Homo sapiens: one gene and its partners. The main gene of each other region encodes a partner of the protein of the gene in region 2 in a complex. Each region holds a gene or a part of one and is shown on either strand. Other genes may lie near its edges.

The links.
Region 1: OS9 (region 2) and UBE2J1 share a complex: the UniProt entries of both Homo sapiens proteins name them as parts of the HRD1 complex.
Region 3: OS9 (region 2) and FAM8A1 share a complex: the UniProt entries of both Homo sapiens proteins name them as parts of the HRD1 complex.

The regions. Positions count from the first base shown.
Region 1 is NC_000006.12:89,339,079-89,342,827, forward strand, and holds part of UBE2J1 (ubiquitin-conjugating enzyme E2 J1), read right to left. Parts: intron 3,378-3,749; coding exon 3,246-3,377; intron 1-3,245. UniProt on the Homo sapiens protein: Catalyzes the covalent attachment of ubiquitin to other proteins. Functions in the selective degradation of misfolded membrane proteins from the endoplasmic reticulum (ERAD) and is essential for cells to recover from ER stress.
Region 2 is NC_000012.12:57,718,010-57,721,758, forward strand, and holds the end of OS9 (protein OS-9 isoform 1 precursor), read left to right. Parts: intron 1-136; coding exon 137-412; intron 413-983; coding exon 984-1,173; intron 1,174-2,089; coding exon 2,090-2,254; intron 2,255-2,396; coding exon 2,397-2,509; intron 2,510-2,774; coding exon 2,775-2,900; 3' UTR 2,901-3,548; downstream 3,549-3,749. UniProt on the Homo sapiens protein: Lectin component of the HRD1 complex, which functions in endoplasmic reticulum (ER) quality control and ER-associated degradation (ERAD).
Region 3 is NC_000006.12:17,598,195-17,601,943, forward strand, and holds the start of FAM8A1 (protein FAM8A1), read left to right. Parts: upstream 1-2,107; 5' UTR 2,108-2,215; coding exon 2,216-2,927; intron 2,928-3,749. UniProt on the Homo sapiens protein: Plays a role in the assembly of the HRD1 complex, a complex involved in the ubiquitin-proteasome-dependent process of ER-associated degradation (ERAD).

The DNA of each region.
Region 1 (3,749 bases), on a different chromosome or scaffold from region 2:
TACAGCACCTTTTGAAACTGAGTTGCACAAGTGAAATCTAAATAATTAACATGTAAAGTTTTACTGGCCAGCGAAGTGGCTCACGCCTGTAATCCTAGCACTCTGGGAGACTGAGGCAGGAGGATCACTTGAGGCCAGGAGTTCAAGGCCAGCTTGAGCAACTTAGTGAGACACTGTCACCAAAAAAAGAAAAGAAAGAAAATTAGCCAGGAGTGGTGGCATGTGCCTCTAGTCCTACCTACTTGGGAGGCTAAGACAGGAAGATTACTTGAGCCCAGGAGTTCAAGGCCACAGTGAACTATGACTGCATTGCTGCATGCCAGCCTGGGTGACAGTGTGAGACCCTGTCCCCAAGAAAAGAAAAAAAAAGAGGAGAGGAGGGGAGGAGAGGGGGGGAGGGGGGAGGAGAGGGGATGGGGGAGGAGAGAGGGGAGGGGAGGGGGGAAGGGAGGGAAGTGGGGAGGGGAGGGGGGAAGGGATGGGGAGGGAAGAGGGGTGGGGAGGGGAAGGGGGAAGGAGAGGGGGGAAGGAGAGGGGAGGGGGAAGGGGAGGAGGGAAGGAGTGGGGGAGGGGAGGGGAGGGGAGAGGATTTACTAATGTCCTACCCTGTGCCTAGTATGGAGCTAGGCTCAGTTAAGAATCTAAAAGAGGCCAGGCATGGTGACTCATGTCTGTAATCCCAGCACTTGGGAGGCTAAGGTAGGAAGGTCACTTGAGGCCAGGAGTTTGAGACCAGCCTGGGCAACAAAGTGAAACCCTGTCTCTACAAAAAATAAAAATAAAAAAAATTTAGCCAAGCGTGGTATGTGTGACTATAGTCTCAGCTACTCAGGAGGCTGACGTGGGAGGATCATTTGAGTGTGGGACATCAAGGCTGCAGTGAGCTGTGATCATGCTATTGGACTCCAGCCTGGGTGACAGAGTGAGACCCTATCTCAAGTTAAAAAAAAAAAAAGAATCTAAAAGAGAAGACATTCAAGAGGCCAGGACGAAACCTAAGGACTCAGTATCACCTAACTAGATGTTAGTGAGGAAAGACATGGGGAGAAAGGCTCTGAGAGAGGTGTGATTTTCAGAGGAGTGATGAATGAAAGGATAAATAAATACTTATTGAATGAAAGTTGGAGAAGACTTTTCAAAAAAGAAGTGAACCAGAAAGAGTGTAATGTTGAAAATCAGGGCTGATTCTCAGCCAGTGTGGTTAGTATGACCATACCATTGGCTAACTATTGAAATATACCTGTATTTGTTGGTAAAGAGCTGCTGCTAACTACTGTCCTCCACCACCACCAGTCTCCCCATGCACCAGCCCCTCCCTCCCCGAAGACCACTTAGCTCTCCCCATGATCTAGCAACTAAATAAAATGACTCCTGACACAGTAGAGTGTCTCCAGGACCCTGCTCCAACTCTACTGCCAGCATTAGCAGTTCTCTATATCAGCTAATACTTATTAAGCAGCTTCTATATGTCAGGTACTTTATGGTGTGATTACAATTACCAAACACAACATTCATTTTGACTGATGAGAAAACAATTTTAAAGACATTGTGTAACCCACCCATAGTGTAATGGAAAGAGCACCAGTCAGAATCTAGGCCTATTGGCTCTTAAACAAATGTTCTCTCTGTTATACAAAATAGAGGTAAAAGCAGCATTAATTTGGTATTTATTTATTTATTTATTTATTTATTTATGTTTTTTTTTTTTGAGATGGAGTCTCGCTCTGTCGCCCAGGCTGGACTGCGGACTGCAGTGGCGCAATCTCGGCTCACTGCAAGCTCCGCTTCCCGGGTTCACGCCATTCTCCTGCCTCAGCCTCCCGAGTAGCTGGGACTACAGGCGCCCGCCACCGCGCCCGGCTAATTTTTTGTATTTTTAGTAGAGACGGGGTTTCACCTTGTTAGCCAGGATGGTCTCGATCTCCTGACCTCATGATCCACCCGCCTCGGCCTCCCAAAGTGCTGGGATTACAGGCGTGAGCCACCGCGCCCGGCCTAATTTGGTATTTATTGATGAATACCTGTTGTTTCACCATTTGCTACTCCGTGTGGGTAAGATGTTTAACTGAGAACAGGATGAAGGCTGAGGAGAAGCAGTGAGATTTCTCAAACTGGTCTCTGAGATTGGTGTAGTTTCATGTTTCAACAGGGCACTATGTGTGGAAGGTGGACTGCAGCAGGCCAAACTACGGAAAGGATGCCTTGGAGGTTACCAAAGAGAAAAATAGGCACAGCTTAAAGTGATAACAGATACAGGGAATGGTTTTTGTGTTTGTTTTTGCTTTTTTCAAGGTTAGGGGATAATTAAACATAGTTAAAGGAAATGAGAGAAGAAAAGCTTAACAATTAAAGAGGAATTAGATCAATAGTTTTCCTTGGCCAGGTATGATGGTGACACCTGTCATCCTAGCACTTTGGGAGGCTGAGATGGGAGGACTGCCTGAGGCCAGTAGTTCAAGACCAATGAGACCATGTCTCTACCAAAAAACTTTTTAATTAGCTGGGTGCAGTGGCATGTGCCTATAGTCCCAGCTACTCAGGAGGCTGAGGTGGGAGGATAGCTTGAGCCCAGGAGTTTGAGGCTACAGTGAGCTATGATCGTGCTACTGCGCTCCAGCCTGGGCAACAGAGAAAGACCGTGTCTCTTAAAAAAAAAAAAAAGTTTTCCTTCACATGAAGAAAAGATGTGTAAATTTGGAGAGAAAGAGAGAAAATCTGAGATATAAACAGTAATAATAATGCTAACACTTATTGAGTATTCTGTGTCAGGCTCTATTCTAAGAGCTATACAATAAGATCTTGATACTTTTCATCCCACATAAACTCAATGAGGTAGGTATCATTATTCTCATTGTAAAGATGAGAAAACTGAGGAAGAGAGTGTAAGAAAGGTGGGAAGTTAAAGGAGACAATATGATTACAAGGTACAATAACATTAGCTACCCTTTAGTGAGTACTTATGAAGTGCCAGATGTGTATGCCCAGCACTTGGCATATATTAATTCATTGAATCCTAACAACCATGATATGACATTTATGCATTCAGTTGTATCATTTTTACTTCTCAGATGCATCAGCTTCCTAGGAATTATTTTGGAGGAAAAAAATTGTAGTCCCAGGGCCTGGACCCCAAAAGCAAAATTATACTGTTCTATTATTTCTTAATGAAAATGATTTGCTTACTATATTTTGCAGCTACCAGGAAGAGTGAAGCCACAAGCACTCTAAAAATCCAAAATTCTTACCGTTAGGAGAATAATGCTTGGTGGTTTCATGGGATACTCTGGTGGCAGTACTATCCGCCCGTGATAAACTCCTCCATCAAAATCGGAGTCTGGGGGCCCTCTAACCGTGAAGTGCCATTCAAAAAGGTTATCCTGAACAAAAACAATAATCCACAAGGAATTAATAATATTGAAAAGTTTGATCATTTTATCTGAATATTAGAAATATTACCAAGCAAGAAAAATTAAATGCTTTATATTATTGCTAGTATAGTTTCTAATGCATGAGATGTCTCGAGACTATAAGTGATAAATTAAATTTATAAGTAAAAGCTATTTAATCTAGCTTTCATGTTCCATTGAGCTAAAATATTTTATAATAAACACATTAAAAATTTCTGAGTGTTGTTATATATTCATAAGTAACTTACAGGTTTAAATTGGAAATTAATCCTTGAAAGAATAGCAAATTATGATAATTATATAATCAAAAAATTACTATGTTTGGGTTATTTTAACAAATCT
Region 2 (3,749 bases):
TTTGAAAAACTACCCTGACCTGGGACTCAACTCCTGGGTCCCCCAGTACCACACACCTGCTACTGTTTGTCTGCCCCCGACCATGTGTCTCTGTTGAAACCCCAACTGTCTTTCTCCCCACTCCCTACCCACCCAGGGGAAGCCAAATATAGGCCAAGAGCAGCCTGTGGATGATGCTGCAGAAGTCCCTCAGAGGGAACCAGAGAAGGAAAGGGGTGATCCAGAACGGCAGAGAGAGATGGAAGAAGAGGAGGATGAGGATGAGGATGAGGATGAAGATGAGGATGAACGGCAGTTACTGGGAGAATTTGAGAAGGAACTGGAAGGGATCCTGCTTCCGTCAGACCGAGACCGGCTCCGTTCGGAGGTGAAGGCTGGCATGGAGCGGGAACTGGAAAACATCATCCAGGAGGCAAGCCCAGCTCTTCCTCCTGTTGCTTCCACAGCCGCCTGGTCCCGTGGAGCAGGACAGGCTGACGGGCTAAAAGAAACAGAGGGCACAGCACAGGGCAAGGACGGGGCACTTGGAAGTGGTAGCTGTTTCCCTAATTAATCGGGGCTGTTGGGGAAGGGGGACCAGAGAGAGGGACAAGACTTAAATATCAGACTCTCTGGCCAGGCGCGGTGGCTCACGCCTGTAATCCCAGCACTTTGGGAGGCCGAGGTGAGCGGATCACCTGAGGTCAGGAGTTCAAGACCAGCCTGGCCAACATGGCGAAACCCTCTCTACTAAAAATGCAAACAAATTGGCCAGGCATGGCAGTGGGTACCTGTAATCCCAGCTCTTTGGAAGGCTGAGGCAAGAGAATCGCTCGAACCCGGGAGGCGGAGGTTGCAGTGAGCCGAGACGGCACCACTGTACTCCAGCCTGGGTGATAAGCAAAACTCCATTTCAAAATATCAGACTCTCCTACAGAGCCCAGCCCGCTGGCTGCCTCCACACCCCAGACCCTTGACTCACTCTCTTCTCTTGGGTATTCCAGACAGAGAAAGAGCTGGACCCAGATGGGCTGAAGAAGGAGTCAGAGCGGGATCGGGCAATGCTGGCTCTCACATCCACTCTCAACAAACTCATCAAAAGACTGGAGGAAAAACAGAGTCCAGAGCTGGTGAAGAAGCACAAGAAAAAGAGGGTTGTCCCCAAAAAGCCTCCCCCATCACCCCAACCTACAGGTGAGAGCAGTCAGACAAGAAAGAGTAGCCCAGTCTGTTGTTTTCATCCCTCAGCTGGTTCTGTTCCCAGAGGGGACCCTGTTCCTTCCCTTCTGAGGGTGCTCATTCTCTCCCCACTTTCTGGAACACTGTCCTCACTTGCGCCTGCTTCCCAACACCATCATCCCTTTGCGTGTTTACCTCCTATTCATCCCTCTGGGAAGCAGCTTTTAGAGCATATCTGCTGGTTTTCTGGTTTGCTCCTGTACACCCAGTGCCTAGCACTCTGCCTGGCACACAATGGATGATCAGTAGCTAGTAATTGAATGCTTGTGAGTCTATATGCTGAAAACCACTTTAGGACTTTGCACCAAGAGAGGCCCCAGCTGTCAGGGCATGAATAGGAGAGCCCAGCTGCACATGAGCCAATAGCTTGGATAGACTTTAAATTATTTCTTCTTCTTGTATCCCCTTGTGTCCATTTCATAGTGTCCTATGGGTGTGGACATCAGATATTCTAAATGGAATGTTCCAGTTTCAAACCTTCCATTCCCACTCTCTCTATAAACATTGAAATGTCTTTAAAGTCCCAACATATGGAGGAGGAGACCACACTTTTCCAACCTGCTTCTTCAAACAGAACTTTGTTGGTGCAGGTGGCCTGATTTTGGCTTTAGAAAACATTTGTTTTCCTATAGGTGACGGGCAGAATTATTGGGTAGGGCGGGAAGATGGAAGGCTGCAATTGGTGGAGGGAGCTCTACAGGCTGAACTGGGAGGGGCGGGGCACACATTTTTTTGAGCCCTGGCTCATATACATGTTGAGATGGAAGAGCTGCCAAAGCCAACTGATGTTTTAGGGGGAGATGACCCCCACACCCCTAACCCTGGAGTCACGCCTCTGCTTTGTGTTTCCCTGTGTGTCTCCCCCTCTAAGAGGAGGATCCTGAGCACAGAGTCCGGGTCCGGGTCACCAAGCTCCGTCTCGGAGGCCCTAATCAGGATCTGACTGTCCTCGAGATGAAACGGGAAAACCCACAGCTGAAACAAATCGAGGGGCTGGTGAAGGAGCTGCTGGAGAGGGAGGGACTCACAGCTGCAGGTGGGCCCTGGAGGGCGGCTGGACCCAGTGCTGTCGGAAGGGCAAGCTGCCGGAAGTGGAGGGGCTGGGACCAGTGGGGCAGGGGGCCTGCCCTGAGGCTCCCAACCATCCTCTCCTCTCACTGCATACTGCTCCTTTCCAGGGAAAATTGAGATCAAAATTGTCCGCCCATGGGCTGAAGGGACTGAAGAGGGTGCACGTTGGCTGACTGATGAGGACACGAGAAACCTCAAGGAGATCTTCTTCAATATCTTGGTAAGAGGCTTCTACCCCCGAGTCCTGGCCCCCAGCCCTCCTGGAGTGGAGGTGCGGGCTTGCCCCAGCCACGCCATTGCTGAGCTTCCATTTCCTGATCTGTAAGACAAGGCTGGGGTTCCAGTGGCTCAGAGTGCTGCCATGCAGGAAGAGCCCCTCAGGACATGGGTGTCCTCATTCCCTGCCTTCCCCCAGCTGCCTGGCCCAGGACTTCCCTGGGCTCAACGGCCAGTAGCTCCAGCCCACCTCTACCCTCTCCCACCAGGTGCCGGGAGCTGAAGAGGCCCAGAAGGAACGCCAGCGGCAGAAAGAGCTGGAGAGCAATTACCGCCGGGTGTGGGGCTCTCCAGGTGGGGAGGGCACAGGGGACCTGGACGAATTTGACTTCTGAGACCAACACTACACTTGACCCTTCACGGAATCCAGACTCTTCCTGGACTGGCTTGCCTCCTCCCCACCTCCCCACCCTGGAACCCCTGAGGGCCAAACAGCAGAGTGGAGCTGAGCTGTGGACCTCTCGGGCAACTCTGTGGGTGTGGGGGCCCTGGGTGAATGCTGCTGCCCCTGCTGGCAGCCACCTTGAGACCTCACCGGGCCTGTGATATTTGCTCTCCTGAACTCTCACTCAATCCTCTTCCTCTCCTCTGTGGCTTTTCCTGTTATTGTCCCCTAATGATAGGATATTCCCTGCTGCCTACCTGGAGATTCAGTAGGATCTTTTGAGTGGAGGTGGGTAGAGAGAGCAAGGAGGGCAGGACACTTAGCAGGCACTGAGCAAGCAGGCCCCCACCTGCCCTTAGTGATGTTTGGAGTCGTTTTACCCTCTTCTATTGAATTGCCTTGGGATTTCCTTCTCCCTTTCCCTGCCCACCCTGTCCCCTACAATTTGTGCTTCTGAGTTGAGGAGCCTTCACCTCTGTTGCTGAGGAAATGGTAGAATGCTGCCTATCACCTCCAGCACAATCCCAGTGAAAAAGGTGTGAAGCACCCACCATGTTCTTGAACAATCAGGTTTCTAAATAAACAACTGGACCATCAATCCATCAACCTTTTTTGTGGGGTGGGGGTTCCAGCAGGGAGAAGGCTCAGTGTTCTTTTCAGATCATGCTCTGATCCTGTTCTTTGCTCCCCATTCCCCAGGTACTATAAACGGGGGCTGGGGTATGCAGGAAGAGACCAGGGTAGCTAAACAAAGCCTGGCCTGGCAAGGATTGAAAGAAACACTTGCAATGCTGTCATC
Region 3 (3,749 bases), on a different chromosome or scaffold from region 2:
CCTCAGAAGCAAAAGATTTTTCCCACCTTCTCCAACCCTCCTGTCTCAATCCCATTCTTCCCCCCACCCCCACCCACAAGGCTAGTCATAGAAACTGGAATCCGTCTTTCCCAAAGCAGGGCATAGAAACCAAAACCCCACCCTTTCCCAAAGCCAGCCACAAACCTAAAAATATTACTCTAACCTCCCTGCACCCCTTTCTGTGCAAATATTGGACATAGAGAAATTATCTGGCAGAGCGCAGTGGCTCACGCCTGTAATCCCAGCACTTTGGGAGGCCGAGGCGGGTGGATCACCTGAGGTCAGGAGTTCAAGACCAGCCTGGCCAACATGGTGAAACCCCGTCTCAACTAAAAATACAAAAAAAATTAGCTGGGCGTGATGGCGGGCGCTTGTAATCCCAGCTACTTCGGGAGGCTAAGACAGGAGAATCACTTGAACCTGGGAGGGGGAGGTTGCAGTGAGCCGAGATCGCACCATCGCACTCCAGCCTGGGCGACAAGAGCAAAACTCTGTCAAAAAAAAAAAAAGAAGGAAAAGAAAAATTATCTGACCTACCTTGTTTAACTGTTGTAGGCCACAGCCCCCATTCCAGAGGGTCCTGTTCCATACCCAGAAGGAATGAATGCTGCAGACAGGCCAAGGAGAATCCAGATAGGCCTTGCTGGGTTTCTTGCCTGTTTGCATCAGAGTGTTTTTTGTCCAGTCATTTTTTTTGAGACGGAGTCTCGCTCTGTCGCCCAGGCTGGAGTGCGGTGACGCAATCTCGGCTCACTGCAAGCTCCGCCTCCCGGGTTCACGCCATTCTCCTGCCTCAGCCTCCTGAGTAGCTGGGACTACAGGCGCCCGCCACCACGCCTGGCTAATTTTTAGTATTTTTAGTAGAGACGGGGTTTCACTGTGTTAGCCAGGATGGTCTCGATCTCCTGACCTTGTGATCCGCCCGCCTCAGCCTCCCAAAGTGCTGAGATTACAGGCGTGAGCCACCGCGCCCGGCCTTGTCCAGTCATTTTTTTATACGGCTGTCCATGCTTTGTTGAACCTAAGCATACAAATACACGATTTCCCTTGTTATCTTTGGGTCTTCATTCTGAAGGCTCCCGTGTCACATAAAACGATGGTCAAATCAATGTCTATGTCTTTTCTCCTATTAACTGCCTCCTGTCAGTGACTTTCAGCGAAACTTCAGAAGGTGAAGCGGAAGTTTTCCTTTGGCCCGGACAGCATCATCATTAATATCATTAATAAATATTCCCACAGTATTTGGCCCTTGTATGTCCTTTGTATGGTGCTGGGGATACAATAACATATCGCTGCAGAGATTTTCAAATGTAAAAGAAGAGAGATTATACTGATTTAAAAGCTAGATTCTGTCCTCACCCTGGAGCTAGTCTGCATTTACGAAAACTTACTTTCCACTGCGGTAGACAGACGCTTTCTACTCCAGCGCAACTGTGCCTTTCCTCAAATCTAGTCTCAAATTTAGGTTCCTTTTCATTTTCTGTTATGGAAAGGCCCTCAGCGTATCCCAGGCTTTGGAGCCTTTTGTTAGTAGTCTGGCCCATGCATAATTTCCCCTTCCTCTGAATTATACATAGCACCTCACTAGTTATATTTTAATACACTTTCCTATGTCTCAGTGGTAGTTTCCTATATTAATATATATCCCAGTTTAGTTTGGCTTTTAATTTCTTTTCTTCTAAGGGGATAGATGCGTTCTGTACCACCTTCTCGAGTACTAATGGTTAACTGGAATGAACACAAGCAACAAACCCTCCGGCCTGGATCCCAAAACAACAGTCGCGGTTCTGCAACAGAAAAGGCTGCGCTGGCCCTGGGACCTGTCTCGGAAATACTCCTCATCCATCTAGTTTCTCCCAGGACAACTAGGCCCAACCCCACGGGAATATACAGAGAGGCCTCGGGTCACAGACTTAAAGCTGTAAAAGGGAGGAGGCGACGGTCTGGTCCCAGTCACCGACCAGCCACCGACTACTAGGGCCCGAACCCGGGACTGCAGACGCACCTCCCCGCCCTCCCTTCCCAGCTCCGCCTGGCGGCGGGCGTTGCTCCTGAGGGGCGGGGCTTCCGCTTCCGGCGGGGGATTGTTGACGCCTGCGGTTGCTGCGGTGGTGACGGGGCTGTTGGGGAGGGGCCATTGGGGGAGGGAAACGGAGCAGTGACAGGTATCCCAGAGGGTGCTGCTGAGGCGACGATGGCCGAGGGGCCCGAGGAAGCCCGAGGCCACCCTCCCGGGCAGGACGATGGCGGAGGGGACCACGAGCCCGTCCCTTCCCTGAGAGGCCCTCCTACCACCGCCGTCCCATGCCCCCGCGACGACCCCCAGGCCGAACCCCAGGCCCCGGGCCGGCCCACAGCCCCGGGCCTCGCGGCTGCCGCCGCAGCCGACAAATTGGAGCCGCCGCGCGAGCTCAGGAAGCGCGGGGAGGCGGCCTCCGGCTCCGGTGCAGAGCTGCAGGAGCAGGCGGGCTGCGAGGCGCCCGAAGCCGCGGCGCCACGAGAGAGACCAGCTCGGCTGAGCGCCCGCGAGTACTCCCGGCAAGTGCACGAGTGGCTGTGGCAGTCCTACTGCGGCTACCTCACCTGGCACAGCGGCCTGGCCGCCTTCCCAGCCTACTGCAGCCCCCAGCCCTCCCCGCAGAGCTTCCCTTCGGGCGGCGCTGCAGTCCCCCAGGCCGCGGCGCCGCCGCCCCCGCAGCTGGGCTATTACAACCCCTTCTACTTCCTGAGCCCCGGGGCCGCGGGGCCTGACCCGCGGACAGCTGCCGGCATCAGCACCCCTGCTCCAGTCGCGGGCCTGGGACCCCGGGCTCCTCACGTGCAGGCGTCGGTCCGGGCCACTCCAGTGACGAGGGTAGGATCCGCAGCCCCTTCGCGAAGCCCGAGCGAGACCGGGCGACAGGCAGGTGAGAAGCGCGAGGTGGAGGCTGGGCGGAGTAGAAGGGTTTTCGGGGGCCTGTGGGGTAGAGCTGGCACGCTTTTTAGACCTGTAACTGCTGCTTCTACTCTGATTGACTATCCTGCCCGTTCAGTTCACTAGCTATCGTTTGTCCAGGCCCTAAATTCCCAAAATGTACAAGGAGGCAATACAGTTTCTTCTTCCTTTAGACCTGGCACTCCAAATTGACTCCCTTACTCATGGGACTAGTTGTTTATTCGTGAAAAGAAATTGCTCTTCAAACCATCCTCTTCCTTTGGTTTTCACGCTCTGCAGTGAGGGCCAAAGCTAAATTCGCAAATGGCAAACCCACTTTTGGAGGGGCTCGACTGGTAATGCTGAAAATTATTCAGACATTGGCTACTTAGGACAGTGGAACTGAACGGATATAAAAGGAGATCGACATGGATACAAGTGGAGTTAGGAAGTTTTGATTGGGTCAAAGCTTCACTTCATTTGATCAATATCTTGTATATTGTGTAATTGTTTTTGCTTCTGTGTGTGAACTAGAATATTTTGAATTAGTTACACTTCTTAGTTTACTATTTAAACTATTAGACTTTTAGTTTATTTTAGTTAGCCACAGATAGATGGGACAAGAACTAGTTGATGCCTCTGATCCCAGTCAGAATTTAGGATGACAGATTGATACTCACTGGGTTTATTTTAAAGAAAGCAAAACAAACTAAAAAACGGGTGGGGGGGGATTACAGGGATTTACTTTATACTAATTGCCAATATTTAACCTTGATTTGTACTAAAAAATGTTTAATTTTGTGTGACTTAGATG